2 separate regions of the Homo sapiens genome follow, and region 2 is linked to region 1. The links come from fine-mapping of genetic effects on gene expression. A gene starts in region 1. The other region holds a variant in brackets. All regions are shown on one strand. Distances are between the middles of the regions. Region 1 holds the start of LPCAT1 (lysophosphatidylcholine acyltransferase 1). Region 2 overlaps LPCAT1 (lysophosphatidylcholine acyltransferase 1).

What was found.
Region 2: its variant is fine-mapped to the expression of LPCAT1 in whole blood (TOPMed, PIP above 0.99).

Annotation. Positions count from the first base shown.
Region 1 is chr5:1,521,067-1,526,529 of GRCh38, forward strand. LPCAT1 (lysophosphatidylcholine acyltransferase 1) reads right to left here and starts at 2,894. Exons shown (of 14, transcript NM_024830.5): 1 at 2,644-2,894. The coding sequence starts at 2,778. RefSeq lists an enhancer at 417-921, silencers at 2,082-2,281, 2,552-2,861, 2,882-3,281 and a cis regulatory region at 4,051-4,286.
Region 2 is chr5:1,493,511-1,498,510 of GRCh38, forward strand. LPCAT1 (lysophosphatidylcholine acyltransferase 1) reads right to left here. Exons shown (of 14, transcript NM_024830.5): 3 at 1,190-1,404. LOC124901162 (a long non-coding RNA gene) reads left to right here. Exons shown (of 2, transcript XR_007059103.1): 2 at 1-2,009. Among named protein-coding and RNA genes, the nearest start is that of MIR6075, 15 kb to the right of the region's middle. RefSeq lists an enhancer at 427-1,626. The variant C/T (reference allele first, on the strand shown) is at 2,997.

The DNA of each region.
Region 1 (5,463 bases):
TACCATACCATTTACCGCTCTCTACTAAATCTATATCCTTGCTTTAGCCAGAGGATTAAAACATTGCACGTATTACAGACCCTGATGGCTTTGATACCTCTTTTCAGATCTTAATGTGCTGTTTTCTGTCCAAAGAGATACTTAAGCTCCTCACTAAATCTGTAGTTAAATGACAGATGGGCTGGCTGGAGGAGGAGGTGTCCCCGCATGGCGCTAATCCGAAGACACACAGCAGCCCCTCCCAGGCGGCAAATGCTCACAGGTAAATGCAGGTACTCACTGGTTTATCTCAACTGGGAACTTAGCTGGGTTTCTGCGGGTTCTTGAGTGTGTCAGCCACTACTGGACCCATTTCTTTCTTTGGGGAAGAAGGCTTTCTTGGCTTGAAAGACAGGCTATTTCACTCTGTGGAAACTTTACAAGAATATATCACATCAAAGTAAAAGCTTTGCAAAGCAATGCTTGGTGAAAAGCAAAATGTTTCTGCAGAGAACTTTGAGAACGTTTACAAACTAAACCCTTGAGCCACACATTGCAGACATCCAGCAGAAACGACTGGATGTACAAACACACCTAATTCCTCAGATGGAACCTCTGAAGTGGCAACAAAGCAAGCCCCCTCTCTGAGAGGCCCCAACACCTCAAGCCAGGATCTCTGCCTGGCTTCGGCCCAAGGGAGAACAGCTGCCCAAAGCCTTCAATCTCGGGACCAGGAGCCTCTCGATGACCCCCTGCCCAAGAGCCACTGGGAGCAGCTTGCACCCTGAGGTCTCGGGGAGGAAAGCAGGCCCCTCTGGGCACTCTGGCAGTGCCCTGACATCTGTACCTACCCATGAGAGTCTCTGCCCTGCTTCTCGCCAGGGCAGTGGGTGCACACTTTTGGACAGAACACACCTCAACCGGGGGCTGCAACTATGACAGGGATGACGAAGTGGCCTCCGGGGACCTCCAGGGAGGGGCTTGATGTTTCCCCCCAGGGAGCCAGGAGGGAGTAGGAAAGGCAGGAAGAGAGAGCATGCCTGAGGCAGCCATAGCTGGGGCAGGAGCAGGGCTGGGGAAGCCCTGGAAACCACAGCAGGGGTTCGAATTTCATCCGGGGGCGTCCCCGCTGAGGGCTTCCGAGCAGCAGAGTGCAGGAGGAAGAAAGCCTGCTGGGAGTGACTCAGGGAGAGTGACCAGGGAGAGAGCCTGGTGGCTGGGTGGGGGTGAGGATTGAAGAGGAGGAATGGTTGAGGGGCACAGAATGAGCGACCGTGTCCCAAGTCCTCCTTTGAGGGGCACAGCACACGGCAGCTGACAGCGTGTGGCAGACAGAGGGCCAGGCAGAGCGGCGGCAGAGGGGCCGGCACCGCCCCAGCCCCAGAGTCCAGCTCCCGACACACAGGGAGACGGGGGCCAGGGCCTGGGAGCCAGGCTGGGGACGACCTCACCCTGTGTGTCACCAGGAGGGGCGGCACCATCGGGCTCTCCTGCTCCCCGTCCCCTTCCATACCCTGAGGACCAGCCGCATCAAGGGGCTTTGAGCAAAAGCAGGCGTCCTGGGAAAATGACAAGCTCAAACTGGCCTCAAGAACTTTTCACTTCAGGGTTCTTTCAGATAAAGTACTTTATGCATTAACAAATCTCCATCTTCCCGGAAATCTATTCTCACAATTGGAAGCGTGCTCCCTACAAACCGGACAGCCCCATAGGCCCCGAAACAGTGCTTGCTTCTAGGAATTATTCTAGAGTCAAAAGTAAGGTCCTCTTGAGAGTGGATCTCAGGTAACTGTAAGCCCAGCTGGCAGCCAGGTAGCCGGAAAAGCCAGGCTGAGCCAGCACATCCCCGGTGCAGCTTCCTGCAGCGAGCGGCCCCCTCCCCACGACGCCCCCGGGTCTCCCCTCACCACTGTCCCATCGCAGGATCTCAGCAAACCGTTCCCTCCCACGTGGCAGCCCAGGTTGCATAAAGTTGATTCGGGTCAGACCAGCCCCGAGAAAGCATCCCTTACAACAGGAGCGAAGCATGCACCCCAGAAGGCAACGTGCGGCCGCAGAGCAGGGAGACCCGTGCGCCTACAGGGGACCCTACAGGGGACCCGCACCGCCCGCGCGCCCTGTCCCGGGCACCACCAGGCCCCGCACACGAGGCTCACCCAGAGCCGCGGTGCCCTCCCGCCCGCGGGCCGCGTCCAGGCAAAGCCGCTCCGGAGTCCCCGGGCTGCGCGCAGGGCCTGCCAAGGCGGGCGGGGCCCGGACCAGGGACGAGCGCGGGGACCGGCGATGCGGGTCCAGCCTCCCGCGGGAGCCGAGGTCGGGGCTCTGGGAGGCAGAGAAAGGGTTGTGGGCCCGGTTCAGGGTGCAGGGGTCTGGGGGGAGGAGCAGAACGCGGGGCGGGGATGGGAAGCGGGGACCCCGAGGAAGGCGCTGAGGGACCAGGATGCGCGTGCGGGCGGCGGGAAGCCGGCGCCGAGACCGAGGCATCGGGTGCGGGCGGCGGGGACGCGAACTGAGGGGCGGCCGCGGGGAGGGAAGGCGCCGCGGCTCGCAGGGCCGCGCCGCGCCCCAGGCCCCCTCCCCGGCCCCTCCTCGGCCGCGCCTCCCTGGCCCCAGCATCCCTGGCGTCCGCGCCGGCTCCCGGGGCCGCGCGCCCTGGGCACCCACCTGGGCCTTCTGCAGGGCGCTGAGGCGCAGCTCGTGCACGAAGGGGTTCCGCCCCGGGGGCGCCAGCAGCCGAGCGTCGCTGGCCCCTGCGCTGGAGGCAGGGGCGGCCCGGGGTCCGCATCCCCGCAGCCTCATGGCCGCGCCGTCCCGCGGCGAGCGCAGCCGAGCTGCCTGGGGCGCCGAGCGGGGCCGGGGCTAGCTGGGCGCGGGTCTCGGGGCGCGGGCCGAGGATGCGCGGCGGCTGGAGCGGGCCGGGCGCGCAGGCGCGGGAGGTGACGTGGGCGGAGCGGGAGCGCCGGCCGGGGCGGGGCGTCCCTGGAAGCCTCGCCTCCCGCCGGCCGGCAGGGGCGGCACCAGCCGGAGTTCCGCTACCTGGTGGTTTCTCTGGGGTCTGTGGGGGGCCGGGGCCGCTGGGGACCGGGGGCGCCTCCTGCAGCCACTGGAGCACAGGGATCCCCGGCAGGGTCTGCGCCAGGAGAAAGGGAGGTCCCCCGGGCCCGCGAGGCTGCCACGTCGTCCCCTTCCGCCGCTCGGCCCGCCTGCTCGCGGGGAGGGAGGAAGGGGCGGGCACGCGTCCAGCTTACGCGCAAGGCGGGCCAGGCCCTGGGTGCCGAGCCCCGGGCTGTTCCGGCGAAGGCCCCACGCCATTCTTCTTATTCGTTGGGCTCCTAGCTCGCACCGGCGACCCTGGAAGCTGCCCCGGGCTGAGGGAGCTTCTTCCAGCCGCGCCTCAGCCCAGGCGACTCCCGCCTGAGGTCCACTCGACCTTAGGACCCCCCAGACCTCGGGATCCCCTCAGATCTCAGGACCCCTCAAGCCTCAGGACCCCCTCAGACCTCAGGACCCCTCCGATCTCAGGACCTCTCAGGCCTCAGGCCCCGCAGGGATGGCCCAGGCAGGAGGCGCACATAGGGGCCCTGACTGTCCGTGCTGGTTGTGCAGGGGCTGCGATGAGATCCCAGCGCTTTCTCACCCGTAGCTGCTTTGGCTCGGGCATTGCCCTTGTGGTGCTCAGGAGCCGTGTGAGGAGCCCCAGGGTGGGGCCCATAATTAGCCGGAGCGAGAGTAGGATGGGCTCCTGCCTCCGGGTGAACACGCTTGGATTTCAGAACTCACGCAGGCCTTCGGTCACAGTGCTCACGGCTTCCTCACCCCGGCTGGCCCTGTTGGTTCCTTCATGGCCAACGGACCTCACCCAGACAGAGCCGGTTTGGGCCACCTGGCCAACCCCCCAGGGTCCTGGCTCCTGGGGATGTCACTGCTGTGTTGGCCCCAGCTGGGCCCCATCCTCAGCAGACGCCAGGGAGTGCCCCGACCCCTCCAATGACCCTGCCTGCGCCCTTGTGGACCTCATAGTGCAGCGGGCTGGCAGAGACCCTTCTGTGTCTGAGACCGGGGTGAGGGCCAGGGGTCTGTGCCATCCACATATCATGCACAGAGAAGGCCCCGGCAGGCCAGACCCGCTGCATGGCCTTATTCCTGCCCCATAAGAGTCCCAGCCCATATTCCTGCCCCATAAGAGTCCCAGCCCATGCCTAGCAGCAGCACCTGTCCCAAGTGCCACACCCACGGGGATGGGGTGAGCCCTGTGTGCTGGTGGGCATTGGTGGCTCTGTGGCCCAGCCACCAGCGTTGCACCCACCTCCTGGGCTTTTAGTGGCCACTTGCTCTGATCCCCAAAACCAGAGCCCAGCACCCGAGGCCACCCAAGGCTCCTCACCGAACTGATCATCAAGAAAGCCCAGGACACAAAGCCTGCCAGCCACAGGGCAGCACCTGCACCCCAGCGATCCAGGCGGCCCCACCTGCTGCCTGAGTGCTCTGGAGAGGAGGGGCCCTAGGGTGTCCCAGTCCTGGGATGAGAGCAGCCTCAGGACTGGACTTGGAGAGCCATGAAAGTGGGGTCCTCCCAGAAGCACAGGCCAGGAAGCGGTGTGTGGCGGAGGGGAAACCTGCTGGAGATGGTGCAGAGCCAGATTCAATGGGGAGAGCTGCCAGAGAGTCATGGCTGTGTCCCCAGAAGATGCAAAAGTCCTAACCCACAGCACCTGTGGCCGCGACCTTATTTGGAAACAGGGTCTTTGCAGATGATCAGGTTAAGAGGAAGTCATTAGGGTGGGCCCTAGTCTGAAATGGCTTGTGTCCCTATAGAGAGGGAGATTCGGTCTCAGAGACAGACACAGAGAGAGCTCCATGGGAAGGCCAGGGTTCTGCTGCTACAGGCAAGCAGTTCCCAGGAGCTGGAGAGGCCTGGAGCAGGTCCTCTCTAGTGCTCTCAGAGGGAGCCTAGGCCTAGGGTGCCATGATCGCAGGCTTCTGGCCTCCAGACTGGGAGAGAATAAATTCCTTCTGCTTTAACCTGCAGAGTGCAAAGTGAGTTGGAACCCAGGGAAGGAGGTGGGGAGGCTGGGGGAAGAACCTCATACTGCCCGGCAATCTAAGCAGGGTCAGCAGGTTGTCCTTGAGCCAAGGTCGGTGGAAAGAGGAGTCCCTCTCCCAGAGGGGTCTTAGGTGGAGCCACTGTGGGCAGCGTGGCCTTGGTGTAGAAGCTCAGTGGATCCTTGGGTCACAGGCACCATGTGGAGGAGGCGCAGAGGCCCAGCTCCGGGGTCAGTACACAAGGGGGCACAGCTGGGAGGGTGGGTGTGACAGGGCCAAGGGCTGTGCAGAGCAGGGGGCAGGACTGGGGCACACTCGTCCTCACCAAGCAGAACCCAAGAAGGCCCCAGAGAGCGGCCAAGGAGCGGAGGTCCCCAGAGGGGCTGAGTCCACGGAACTGCCCCATCCAGGAGGACTGGCCAGGAGAGAACTGGGAAGGCC
Region 2 (5,000 bases), 28 kb before region 1:
AGGGCCCCGGCCATAGGCGACGCCCCTCGTCCCAGCAGCTCCTTCCCTCAGCACCGCCCACTGCCAACCCAGGACCCGCTGTGCCCCAGAACGTGCTGTGCTGTGCTGATGGCGGCTGTGAAGGAAGCACGAGGACAGAACGGGCCCAGATGCCCTGAAGAGCACCGAGGACAGAGCTCTGGTGGGTCAGGGCTGCGCACAGGTGGGTGAGGGGCCACGCAGGGCTCCCTACAGTCCTCCCAGAGCAGTGGGTCCATGGGATGCGGCCCCCAAAGATGGGTCCACATGCTGACCCTGGAACCTGTGAATGAGGCCTTATTTGGAAAAAGGTTTTTACAGAGGTAACTCGTTAAGGATCTCAAGATGAGAGCATCCTGGATCACCCAATGACTGGTCCTTATAAGAGACTCATAGAGGAGACACTTGGAGGGAGCCAGGCCAGTCGACCACTGAGGCAGAGTCAGAGGGACGCAGCCCCCAGAGGAGGAAGAGGCAGGAAGGGGCCGCACAGGGCCTTCGGCCCAGAGACGCCTTGATTTTGAACATCTGGTCCCCAGATGACGAGAGGGTGAATCTCTGCTGGAGTGAGCCCCCGGCTTTGGGGAGGGGTCATGGCAGCACCAGGTGCTCAGGTCCCTGGTTCACGGCACAGCCGCGGTGCATGGGCAGCCCTGCCGACCTGCTCCCAAAGACTTCCAGAACTGCCATCTGATAAAGGTGAGCCACCCTTGCCAAGCAGACCTGGAGCAAGCACTGTAGCCTGTTATGATAGTGAGGGCACTCAGGTAGCAATAAAAATAACAATTACAACAACGAAAATTACACAGGAAACCCCAACACAGAAAATGGGGCACAAGGCCAATGTGCCCGGCGGTGGGGGCTCGATCACTCCCAGCAGCGTGGTGGGGGGGGGGTCCCTCACTCCCGGTAGGGAGGGTCTCACTCATTTCCAGCAAGTGGGGGTCCCTCATTCCTAGCAGGGAGGGATCTCTCATTCCCAGAAGGGGGGGTCCCTAAAAACCAGCAGGGAGTCCCTCATTGCCAGCAACAGAGGGGGTCTCACTCATTCCCAACAGAGGGGGGACCCTCACTCCCAGCAGGAGGGGAATCTCTTATTCTCAGCAGCAGGGGGATCTCTCACTCCCAGCAGGGCAGGGTCCCTCACTCCCAGCAGGGGTGTCTCACTCACTTCCCCAGATCGGGATGTCTCTGCTCTCTGCCTTCATCACGATGGAGGACATCGTCATGGTCACAGGGATGGCGTCGAAGTAGGACGAGTGAGGCGCGAGCGTGAGGATGGCCGCCTCGGTGGGCAGCGCCTGCCGCCCCTTCACGGCCACCCGGTGGAAGCCGCCGGCGAACCACATGGTGCGCATGATGGCCTTCAGCAGGAAGTCCACAACCCTGCAAAAGAGGGCGCTGCGTCACGCGGGCACACGTCCGCAGTCTCGGAGTCTGTGTGAGGCACAGGGGCGGTCCCACGGGAGAGCCCTCCAGGGCGCAGTCCAGGCCACGGGCTTCCTGTGGTCGCCGCCGCTGGGACATCTGCTTGAGGGAAGAAAAGACGCCGCGCCTTCCTGGCCTCCGCCTGTGTCCTCGCTGGCTGCGCTCTCACCTACGAAGGAGGCCGCGGGGCCCTGTGTGGTGGTCACGGGCCACGCGGCAGGCAGTGCTAAGACAACATGAGACTCCGGAACACAGACAGCACAAGTCCCAGGCCAGAAGACCTCCGGACCTTCATGTTAGCAACTTATTTATCAGCATCCTATCATTTTGAAATGGGAAAAACATTAAAACACCTAAAACGCATATCGCAATATGGGGGGGGGGGCGCTCAGAGCTGAGGGCGGAAGCTGAGACCTGCGTGCGAACTTCCCCATCTCATCTCCACAGGAAGCCCGGGGTTCCCACAACCAGGCGTTGTGTTATTACAGTGAGCTGTTTCTGGAGGAAATTAGATGGCCAATAAATTTGGAAAATAAAGTAAAAATCAGCCTAGGTTAACTGAATTTGTGTACTCTTTATCTCTTTTTAAAATAGGTACAAATTTAGCCTTTTAAATGTGTGTATTCTCTTTCATATGAGGCTACAGATTAGGCTGTTATTCCACACCTCAGGGAATTGACACGCAGCAGACAGCCACGGTGTGTGAGAAGCCACAGGTCAGGCACACAGAGAACATGATTCAGCCTCATGAGAAGCCACGGCTCACTCGGCCACTGGGTTAAGTGGGCGCATCACACTGGGTAAAACTACTGCACAGAGAAACAAGAGCCTGAAGCCTTACTGGATTCACATTGCCCTGGGACAGATGATCCTCCCAGAAGACTTCCAGGACAGGGGTCCCCATGGATCTGAGCCAAGGCGGTTGCTAGGAGGGCACAAAGCCTCCTCTCGTGGGGCCACCTTGGAATGGCCTTTGTGTATGCGATGATAAACAATGGTGTAGTTACACATGGAGATGCTGGGGACCAACCCAGGGTGCTGCTTGTCTAGAGGAGGGGGGATTACACAGGTGTGCACTTCTTCACCACCTGTTCAGCTGCATATTTAAAAATGTACTTTTCTGGCCAGGCATGGTGGCTCACGCCTGTAATCACAGCACTTTGGGAGGCCAAGGCAGGTGGATCACTTGAGGTCAGGAGCTCAAGACCAGCCTGGCCAACATGGTGAAACCCTGTCTCTACTAAAAATACAAAAATTAGCTGGGCATGGTGGCAGGCGTCTGTAATCCCAGCCACTCAGGAGGCTGAGGCAGGAGAACTGCTTGAACCCAAGGGGCGGAGGTTGCAGTGAGCCGAGATTGCGCCACTGCACTCCAGCCTGGGCAACAGAGTGAGACTCCATCTCAAGAAAACTAAACTAAAAAATAAAGATGTACTCTTCTGTGCACATGTTATTTTCCACAAAAAAAAAAAAAAAGTACAAAAACAAAAGCCAAAAGACAGCAATTGATGCCTAAGATGGAAGAAACAAGGCAGCGGCGGAGGGAGAAG[C/T]GAGGCTGCAGAGGAGGCTGCGGCGGGCACAGGAGCCAGTCTCGGGCAGGTTCAGGGGCAGGAGAGAGGACAGCAGGAAAAAAGGGATTAAAACCCGGGCGGCCCTTAGAGGAACACACCTGCCAGCCCCGAAATCGAATTGCAGGGACAGACGGTGCTCAGGGGAACTGTACTGGGTGTCGGGGCAGGGAAAAAGCAGCCTCAGCTCTTCTCTAAAGATCTTGGAGGAATTTTATACCCAAACTATCCACATGTGAAAACCCGGACTGCTGGTGTGGATGACAGCCTCAGAGAAAAGCTCCGCTTGCTGTGGGGTTGGGGACCCAGCACCCACTCACCCCAAGGCAAAGGGAGCCAGCACAAGCCCAGGGTGCTCAGGTGCCTGGGCAGCCCATTCCCAGGGGAATGTGAATCAGGAGACAGATCTATCTGCATACACAGGAGCGGGGATCTCCATCAGCACCCCCAGGAAATCCACTCCGTCCTACCGCCCTCACACGGACGACACCCAAGAATCCTGAGACGTGTGAGCAGAGCAGCTGCATGGCAGAGAAGCAGAGGACTGACCCCAAGGAGACAGAAAGGGTGGGCATCAGAAGAGGGGTGCAAAACATCCACCACGCTCGCCAAGAGAGTCTGGAAGAACAGGGCGCTGAGGAGCATCAAAGAACAAGAAAACACTCTCAGAAACCAAGACTGTCACTGTGGAGACAAGCAACTCACAGGAAAGACTGGGAAATGAGGAGGAGGAAATCTCCCAGAACATGCAGGGGGAAAAGGAGGAAGGCCGCTGAGGCCTGCATCTCCTCAAGCCAGCTGGCATGTGGAGGTGGGTGGGGGAAGCCCACACGTCTAAGCGTGAGGGGCAGGCGCAGGCCCCGGCTCTGCAGGTTCCAAATGTTCTGCTGTGAGCAGAGGCAAGAGGCAGAGTGGAGCCGGCCCTGGAGAGGACCTATACACATGTACACAGCCTGAGTGCTGGCTACGGTGCCAGGCCGGTGGGGTAGGGCAAAGGAAGGGGCCCTGGGGCCACGTCTGGCGGGGCTTCAAGGAGGCAAGTCTGGTGATCCACGTGGACTGGCTTAGCTGGGTCAGGGACGGCCCCTGGGTGGCTGGTGGGAGGGCTGTGTTGGGCTGGCAGGTGTGGAGGGGCAGCCCCAGGCTGAGACGCAGGTGGCAGGAGCTGCTGGCTTCTGGGAGACCAGATAAAGTGGTTTGATGCTCAAGTTCAAGCTCCAACCTCCAGGCCAACATACGGGGAGTACCTAGAGTCATCATGGGGATGGCATCCCCAAACTTGGGAACAGGTGTTCCCACACAGAGCATTCAGGAAAGGGCACCATCCATCTGAACCATCCGGTCAGCCAAGGGGCAGCCCCTGGAGGACCTGGCCCAGCTCAGGACTTGGCCCGTGGTCAAGGATTCAGCGCCAGATGGTCGGGTTTTGCAAAACGATGCTACGGTTTTTACAACACTGTGTGTGTTGAAAGTAACCTAAAATAGTGCCTTTTGCGAAACTGTGTCATTCTTTCACTGAAAGCCTAAGATTTTTATTTTAGGAAGGTTTGAATGACACTAACTTACATTCAGCAAAAATGCTTTAACTCAACATCAATCTATTCAAAACTGCAGAGCAGTGCATAACGTGAGCCAACTTAAGTCCCAAACCGACTACGTAATTATTATTCAGCGGTACACTCTGAATCTGCTACTTCAAATTCAGTTTCCTCCTGATCCCTTACGTCCCTAACTACGGTGCTTTTGTGACTAGGTTTCCCCTTGGGGAGTTCAGAATTCAGGGTTTGTTCTCTCTTCTGTTTCCCTTCAAGCACCAAGCCAAGCCCAGGACTGTGCACCAAGGGAGCTTTCATCAGTGCTGCTGAAGGAGACGCCAGGGGCTCCAGGGGTGGGATTCAATGCCAGGCAGCACGGGCAGCTTGAGTGCCCACAAGCATCCGTGCATACTCCCACACATGCACACATTCACACACATACACAGACATC